Regions from separate parts of the Homo sapiens genome. Here region 2 is linked to region 1. The links come from fine-mapping of genetic effects on gene expression. A gene starts in region 1. The other region holds a variant in brackets. All regions are shown on one strand. Distances are between the middles of the regions. Region 1 holds the start of AKNA (AT-hook transcription factor). Region 2 overlaps AKNA (AT-hook transcription factor).

The links. PIP is the estimated chance that this variant, and not a neighbour inherited with it, causes the effect.
Region 2: its variant is the best candidate, but not a certain one, in a credible set for the expression of AKNA in whole blood (TOPMed, PIP 0.76).

The regions. Positions count from the first base shown.
Region 1 is chr9:114,385,625-114,390,009 of GRCh38, forward strand. AKNA (AT-hook transcription factor) reads right to left here and starts at 2,358. Exons shown (of 22, transcript NM_001317950.2): 1 at 2,236-2,358. It overlaps LOC124902253 (a long non-coding RNA gene), which reads left to right and starts at 2,426. Exons shown (of 3, transcript XR_007061742.1): 1 at 2,426-2,629; 2 at 2,821-2,965. RefSeq lists enhancers at 191-250, 1,021-1,170, 1,985-2,720, 2,191-2,320, 2,361-2,650 and 1 more.
Region 2 is chr9:114,365,466-114,369,850 of GRCh38, forward strand. It overlaps AKNA (AT-hook transcription factor), which reads right to left. Exons shown (of 22, transcript NM_001317950.2): 5 at 2,974-3,130; 6 at 2,078-2,232. Among named protein-coding and RNA genes, the nearest start is that of AKNA, 20 kb to the right of the region's middle. RefSeq lists enhancers at 1,390-1,449, 1,470-1,559, 1,667-2,615, 2,087-2,386, 3,609-4,313. The variant C/G (reference allele first, on the strand shown) is at 2,483.

The DNA.
Region 1 (4,385 bases):
AATCTCACTGTAACCAGGGGAAGGTGCACGTCAGAGGCAGCTGCAGTGACTGACTAGAGTTTCGCACTTGCCCCCAGGCGCCTAAACCAGTGAGCCTTTCCTGAGCCAGGCCTCTGCCTTCCATGCGAGCCATGGCCCTCCTCACCACAAAGCCCCAGAACTGGCCAGTCAGCTAGTCAGTCAACAAACACACGTTAGTGCCAACTACCTGCCAACCTCAGGCTGGGACGATGCTGTGATAGAGAAGCAGGCTGGGCATCAGGAGACAGGTGCTAGTCCTGGCTGCTGTTACTCACTGTGTATAGCTGGGCTTGCATTTTCCTCACTGTAAAATAGAGAAAGTACCACCTGCTCTTGATATCGCAAGGGGATATCACCCTGCTAGGGTGGGTTGGGAGGCAGGGTATGGGACTCAAAGAGCTTTGAAGTCCCTGATTGACTCAGCTTCTAAGGGCAACAGCCTCAGAACTGTTAACCTCTCTCCTCCTCCCTGAGGTCACATTTCAAAGTACAAAGATACATACTGAGCACCCAGTGGGCGCAAATTAACTTTTTAAAAAAGCCCTATGACTTCCTACTATATACCAGGCGCTACGTAAGATGCAAAGAATATAGAAAAGAGTAAAAGTGTTCCAAGATTTTAAACGGTGGGGGGTAGTACAATACAGAAGTGTTACCAAAGGAAGCTTTAAGGTGGGCTTGAGAAACAATGAGGATTTGGGGGAGAAGACTGGGGAGGGCATTCCAGGCAGCGGGAACAGCACGGAGGCAAAGGCACGTAGGTCTGAAAGTATGGCCTGACCTTGAAGGAGAGCTATGGGCAGGTGTCCCTGCATGCCAGATAAAGGCAGAGTTGTTCCAGCCAGCCCTCGTTAGGGCAGCAGGGCTGCTCCTAAAAGGCAGTGAGTGGGGTTTGGTGAAGACTCCAGCAGTGTGAGCTGGGGAGGGCTATGGAGTTCAGGGTCCCCGCCATCCCTGGAGAAACTGGCCCCACAAGGAAGTAGCAGCCACTGCACCCTCCTTCTGCACATCTCCTTCTTACACCCAAGCCGCCACTGCCCCTGCTCTCTCAAGGGTCTAACAGACCCCTGAGGTGTCTATCTTCAGTTCCTGGGTGGGATGGACTCTTCTTCCCCACCACCCACACAGGGCTTCTCCGCCCGCTCAGTCATTCCACAGCCAGGGACCCTTCCCTTTATGGCTCAATCCCTCAGAACTGCCCAGACGCCCAGGCTCTCCTTTGCCAGCACAGCTACGCAGCCCGCACAGCCTCCCCGTGCCCTCTGCAGCCCCTTCCCATCCAGCCAGAGCTGTCCAGGGTGCCACCCTGCTTCTACCCCCACCCACACCCTGACACCTCCCAGATGAAGACACTGAGGCACAGAGACATGGCCTGCTCTCACAAGACCTCACAGCCAGGAAGCGCAGACAGAGGATTCAAAGCTGGGGTACCGCAACTCTGAAACCAAGGCTGTCAGATGTGTCAGGGAGATGGGGAAGGAAGACCACCCCCCAAATCAGTAACCAGACCTTCCAAAAAGGCTCAACCATACCCCCACCCACCTGCTGGCAGGGCACAGACTTGCTGTTCTCAAGGGGTTCCCACCAGCTGTGTGGACTCTAGTCCCACAAGGAAGCACCAGCCACTCCCTCTCTGTGTCCTCCCTGCCCCCAGCCCGCTCCAGCAGCAGAGGCCGAGGAGAAAGAGAAACGGTGCCCTGGCTGTTGCCAGCTCTGGTCTTGCCATCCTCAAGAGCTGAGCTGGGTCTGCTGGTCCTCGGACTGTCCTTGGCTCCTCTCCTTGCTCTTACGCAGCTGGCATAAGGGGCCACTCCTTCAATAGGGACCACCCCCCGGCGCCGTCGCTGCCTCCTGGCCTGCTGCCCATGCCTGCATCGTCTCTGAGACCCCTTAGCAACCAAGGACACTAACTCTCCAGGTGCAGACGACGACACCCCAGGCACAGAGATGGACCCGCCTACCCAAGTTCACAAGAGATCAGAATCAGAGCTAGGACTGGAATCTAGCATCCTGAGGCTTGACGAAATCCTCCTTAAATCCACCCTTGCCCTGGAGGCCGGGATCCCCTAAGCCAAGAGAAAAGCGGTGCAGCTCCAGCAGCTGCAACTTCCTGGCTGGGCTGGTCCGGCTGCCTGGACTGTCCCGGAGAGTCTGTGACTGGCCCGTCCAGAAGGAAAGCGGCCTCCCGGGCCCTCCTCCGTTCCAATCCCTTACCTCTCTCGGGCTCCACCACCGTCCTGCCGACCCAGTTTCAGGGGACCTGCCTGTGAATTCTTTGTTCCAAACCCAGGGAGCCCCCTGTCTCCATTGCGCCCTGGCCCACCTCCAGGCCGTTCTGCCAGCCCAAGCTGCTGCTCACAGACCAGCATCGCTCCCCACCTCTCCCCGCCCCTGCCGTGGTTGAGGCCGCCTCGCCTCGGCAGGAAGCGCCCAGCCTGATTTCCTACAAGTGTTTGTCAGAAGGAGGGGGTTTGTCTGCGTGCAGAGCAAGAGCTGGAGGAGCTTAACCCCTTGCAAGCCCTCCGCAGTCAGCGCTGCCCAGGAAAGGACTCAGGGAACAAACTCCTGACGTCCTGGGCTTGGGATCATCTCAGCCCAGGCCCTGCAGGTACAGATGGGGAGACTAAAGCACAGAGAAGGTCAGAGGCTTGGCCAAGGTCACACAGCATGCTGTAGCTCCTACCCTCTAGGCCCTCTTCAACCACGGCCTGACCTTAGCCGAGGCTCCTTCCCTCACTAGGCCTCAGGGCCCATGTGCACGGTGAGAGCTCAGACTCAACACCACTCCTGCCCTTCCAGCTCTGACTCTGCCAATGTGCAACCTGAATCTCAGGGAGACCGTGGTGATTCCTGCCATCTCAACCCACCGTCCTCACCCCGAGGTGGTCCTGCAGCCAGAGTGGGATGTTCGGGGCAGCATGGAGGTGTGAACCTGGCGGATCAGGTAAACTTTCCCTTGTTGTAAGAACCCTCCAAGGGTTCACCAGATGTTGGGAACAGATCGATCCTGATGGTCAGTCGAGCTATCTTTCCTCAAGCCCCACCATCCCATTCCTTCATTCGTAGGTACTCACTGAGCTCCTACTGTGTGGCGGGTGCTTTTAAATCACCTGGGAATATGGCAGGGCCGAAGACAGGCCAGTCCCCTGCTCTCCACTCTAGCAGAGACATGGACAATAAGCAAGCACATGTATAATTTCAAGGAGAGAGCTGTGAACAATGAGACTGGGTGACGATCCGTGTCCCAGGCCAGGTGGCACTGAAGCCTGGGGCTCACCCCAGGCCAACAGAGTCAGTCTCTGGGCATCAGACATTTTAAGTGTCCCAGGTGACTGGCCCTGGTAGAGAACACATGGGGCCAAGAGTAATGGGTTGGAGGAGAAGGGTTATAGGACGGTCAGGAAGGTCTCTATGAGGAGGTGACATTCAAATAAGGCACTGGAAGGAAGAGGGGTCAAAAGCAAGCCACAAGAAGGTTTGGGGCAGAGTGTTCTGGGAGGGCAAGTGGAAAGGCCAAGGTGGGGGAGCCAGCGGGCTTTCCCTGAGAACAGCAAGGCCTGTGTACCCGGGGCAGAGCGAGTCAAGCGGGAGAAGCAGGAGCTTCACAGAAAAGCGGGCACAGGAGCACAAGAGGCTCCCAACACTGGCCCCACCCAGGACCCAGAGACTCTGAGTCAGGAAACAAAAAGAAAGAGGAAAAAAAACAGGCCTCTGTATTGTCCAAAAAGCCCTCCAGGTAATTCTGATAAGCAGCCAGATTTGGGAACCACCCATGTAGGAGAGAAAAAAATCTCAGAGTCACTGTGGACCTGGGTTCAAATCCCAGCCCCATCTCCTGCTGGCCCTGACCTTTGAGGCTTCACGTCTCTAAGCCTCAGTTTCTTCATCTGTAAAACAGGGATAAGAAGAGTAGCCACCCCACAGGGGCTGCTATAAAGATTCAATGACATGATGCCTACCAAGGGTAGAGCGGGGGAGCCAGAACACAGTCATGTATTGAGCTATTTTATTATTGCTACTACAACTATTGCTGCTACTTAGGTATAAGTCTCTGGTCTCCTCTAAAGGCTAGATCTTAATATCTTTCCTGAAGCCTGGCACACTGTTTATGGCTGATGAATGTGTTCTGTGAATGAATGAATGAATGAATGAGTGGACGTTCCCAAGGTCAGCTTGTGAATATCTGGCGTAGCCAGGGCTAGAACCAGGAGCCCTCATCCTGGTAATCGCCCACCCCTCTATCCCCTTTCCTGCCTTTTACCCACATCTGGGTGGCAGGGCTCTCCCTGTAGCCCCCAGCCCCACATGGAGCAGAGCCAAACCCTAATGAGGCCCCTCCCTATCAGCTCTGGAGGCCATGTGTG
Region 2 (4,385 bases), 20 kb before region 1:
AAAAAAGTTTAATTACAAAAAAAGGCAAGGGATGATGTAAGGTTCGGTTTTAAGAAAGCTCTAGATCAGTGTGAAATATAGAAATGTATATTATATAATCATATTACATAATTTTATAATATATAAAATAGAACTATAATGTGAGCTACACCATCTATAATTTTCTCATAGCCACATTGAGAATGTAAAAAGAAACAGGTAAAATTAATTTTTATATTTTATTTAGCCCCAAATATCATTTCAACATGTAATCAATACTAAAAAAATAGGGAGACACTTTATATTTCTAAGTCTCTGAAATCTGGCATGTGTTTCATACCCACAGCACGTCTCAATTCAGAGCAGCCCATGTCAAGTACTCAACAGTCACATGTGGCCAGCAGCTTCTGAATTGGACCGTGCAGCACTAGACATGAGGGGTCAGCTAAGGCCCCAGCTCCTGCTCAGTGTGATGATTTGACATTGCTTTATTTTGTGGACAACATATAGGACGAAGAAGAAATGTGTCTCCGGCTACGGAACCAAGAATGGTGGTGGCAAAAGGAAACGAAGCCTGTAATCCCAGCACTTTGGGAGGCCGAGGCAGGCATATCACCTGAGGTCAGGAGCTCAAGACCAGCCTGGCCAACATGGTGAAACCCCATCTCTACTAAAAATACAAAAATTAGCCAGGCATGGTGGCGCGTGCCTGTAATCTCAGCTTCTAGGGAGGCTTGAGGCAGGAGAATTGCTTGAACCCGGGAAGCGGAGGTTGCAGTGAGCCAAGACTGCACCACTGCACTCCAGCCTGGGCAACAGAGTGAGACTCTGTCTCAAAAAAAAAAAAAAAGAAGAAAAGAAATGAAGTACTTGTATGTGCTACTCCAACAAGGATTAACTTTGAAAACATCATGGTAAGTGACAGATGTCAGACACAGGACAAATATTGCGTGAATCTATTGCTATGAGACATCCACAATAGGCAAGCCTATAAAGACAGGAAGCAGAAGAGCAGCCGACGGAGGCTGGGGAAAGAGGGGATGGGGAGTGACTGCCTAATACAGATGAGGTTTCTTAGTGCGTGATGAAAATGTTCTAAAACTGACTGTGGTGATAGTGGCAGAACTGCAAATATACTAAAAACCGCTGAAGCAAGCAAACACTTTAAATGAGTCAACCGCATGGTATGTGAATTATATTTCAGTAAAGCAAGGGAAAGAAGGAGAGATGGGAGGGGAGGGAAGAGGAGAGGAGGGGAGGGGAGGAGAGAAGAGAAGAGGAGAGGGGAAGGGAGAGGAGAGGAGAGGAGGGAAGGGAAGGGAAGAATAAAATGGTGGTGCTTCTGAAAGAATTTGTTTTATGGGCATGGTAGTGCATGTAACTATTGCATTTCTCTTTTGGCATTGGCAACTAGGAAGCTCAAAGCTAAATGTGTGACTCTAATGTGCTTAGGGTCCAACAGAACATTTTATTTACTCACTCCACGTATTTTATTTTTTTCTACCCTTACTTCCTCTCTGCCCCAGTTTTCTCACTTCTGTTTTCAGAATGTGGCTAAAACGTATGTATTTTCATAAGGTGCTTTAAACCACTTCTGGAATAAAGCCAATGTACAGTTATAAACAGACCTGCAAACAATTCACGGTTACTTGGACTGTTTCATGAAGATACGAAGACCCTTGAGAAGTAACTAGGAATTGATTTATTTAATAAAATGAACTAAGAAAGTGAGGCAACTTATCCTGAAGAGGAAAAGGTAGAGTGGAGATTCTGTTACCCTTCCAGAATCCTGAAAGAGCTCAGAGTTTCCCGGGAGCCAGCCTAGAGACACTTCCAAGCACAAGTGGAGGGATTTGGATGAGATGCATTGCCAAAAAGGGGGGTGAGACCTAGCACTGGTGACAAGGAGGAGGCTGGAGCTGTGTGGCCTCTAAAACCAGGGAGGGGCTCATGTTTTGGGGATGGCTGAGTTAACTCGGTGCAGAGGCAGGGGAATGACAAGTGAGACTCCCAGAGTGCCTCTCACCCAAGCAGGCAGAGGTTCTGTGTTCTCCAGGTGAGTTAAGTCTCTCGGGGGCAAAGCTGGGAGTCCACTCACCTTGGCCAGGAACTGGCTGGCCTGAGAAGCCAGTGCCTGGGTCTGCTCTGCTGAGGACTGGTCCTCAGAGATGTCCCGGTTCTCCGGAAGCCACCCCAGGGTGGGCATGCTGGTAAGCGAGGAGGGGCTCAAGTCTCCTCGAGCTGATGGCCACCCTGGAATACACAACTGCTGAAAGCTGGGGCCAAGAACAGTCCTTCCAGGAGCTGAAGGACTGAGGCTGAACGTCAAAGCCACCACCTCCATCATCAAGTTATAGCTCAGTCACCATGTGCGATCTTCACATCAGCCCCAGGAAGTGGGCTGGGTAGAACATTGTCCCCCATTTACAAGGGAGAACAAGGTCCAGATCTGCCCCAGGCCACATGGTTGGCTGGAGCAGAGCTACGCTAGGCCTCTGGGTTC[C/G]CAGTCAACAGCGTGGGCTCTCACACAGGGAGACGTGAGTTCCAATCCAGACACTTCCCCTCCATAGCTGTATGAACTTCAGCGTGTCCTCACCTCTCCAATTGGTCCCCTTGGCTGTCATGGGTGTGACAACAGTGCACACCTCAGCGGGTTATTGTGGGGATTAAGTGAGGTCACATGTGTCAAGGCTTAGCACAGGGCCTGGCTGAGATATGGGCTCCCCAGGGACAATGCTCTATGTTTTCAACTCACCCAGGGTCACCAAGATGCCAAGTGGCAGGGCCAGGGCTGCCCCCAGGCTGCTGTGGATCAAAGCAGGACACTTTCCACATCTCTGACCCTTTTGAGTCAAAGTGCCCAGGGTGGGGCCTTGCCTCCCTCCTTCCCCTGGCCTGAGGCCAGCGCCATCCCCAGGGTGAACCAAGTCAGTCCCACAGAGCAGAATCCCAGGCAGAAGGAGCCTCCAGCTGCAGCTCTTCTCCCGGACTCACCTGAGGCCGCAGAGGCCTGGGGGTCCTCGGCCGGGCCCGGCCACCACTCTGCAGAGCGGGGCTGTGGGATGGTGAAGGACAAGACCTTGGTCCCCTGGGGCACCATTCCCGTGTGGATGCTGTGGTTGGGCTGGGGTGGGTCAGAGAACAGGTTCACCTGTGGAAGCAGGGAGGCACAGCACAGCCAAGTCAGGGTAGGGGCAAACCCACCTGAAACGCCTCATCTTCATTCAGGAGCTCAACACACATGCCCTGTAGTAATAAATACCATCTTTCAGTGCAGCCCTTGGCTAGGCCAAACACAGGTGAAGAACTGCATGCCTTTTCATTTACTCTTAATGGCAGTCCTGAAAGGAAGACAGGGTGGGGACCCCAACAGCCCATTATATAGAAGAAAAAACTGAGACACAGAGAGGTTATTAAGTCAGTTACTCAAAATCCCCAGCTGATAAGTCCTTGGATGAGGATCACAACACTGCTCTATCTGACCCCAACACCTATGGTTCTCCTATTAACAGTAATTTTTTATTAATAATGTGTGTTATAATTATATCATAATTAATATACCATATAACATATAATTATTTCTTAACAAATATAAGCATTTCTAATAATTATTATACTGATAATAATAGCAACTAATAGCTATTCGAATGAATGAGTGAACCAGCAAGTAAACAAACTAATCTGCCATTGGTAGCGGATCTCTATCATTTGAGGATGGATTTAACATGGCAGCCAGCCCAGTTGGTGAGGGAGCAGTCTGGAGTCAGGCAGGTGACCAAGGAAGGCCTCTTGAAGCTGGAAAGCAGAGGGAAACCACAGGCTGTTCAACAGCTTAAAGCAGAGTTGAGAGAACTATGTTCTGTTTTTGTAAAGAAGGTTTTATTGAACACAGCCATGCCTGTTTGTTTATGTGTTGTCTATGGCTGCTTTCACACTCTGGTGGCAGAGTTGAGTAGTTGTGACAGAGACTATATGCTCCACAAAGCCAAACATTGTCACAATCTGGCCCTTTACAGAGAAAGTTTGCCAACTCTGGCTTAGCATGTGGGCTCTGCAGCTAGAGCCCAGGTTCCTGTCTAGGCTCTACCACAGCACACCTCTGAGTCCTAGTTGGTTTAATAACCTCTCTGCGCACAAAATAAGTGCTCAATAAATAGTGGCCACCACCCTGACATTCATCACCATTATCTTCACCACCACCGTCATCACCACTACCATCATTAGCATCACCATCAGCATCACCATCAGCATCATCACCATCAGCATCATCACCACCACTGTCATTACCACCACCATCATCACCGTCAGCACCATAACAATCACTATTACCATCACCATCATTCACCATCATTACCATCACCATCACTATCACCATTATCACCAACACCATCACTATTACCACCACC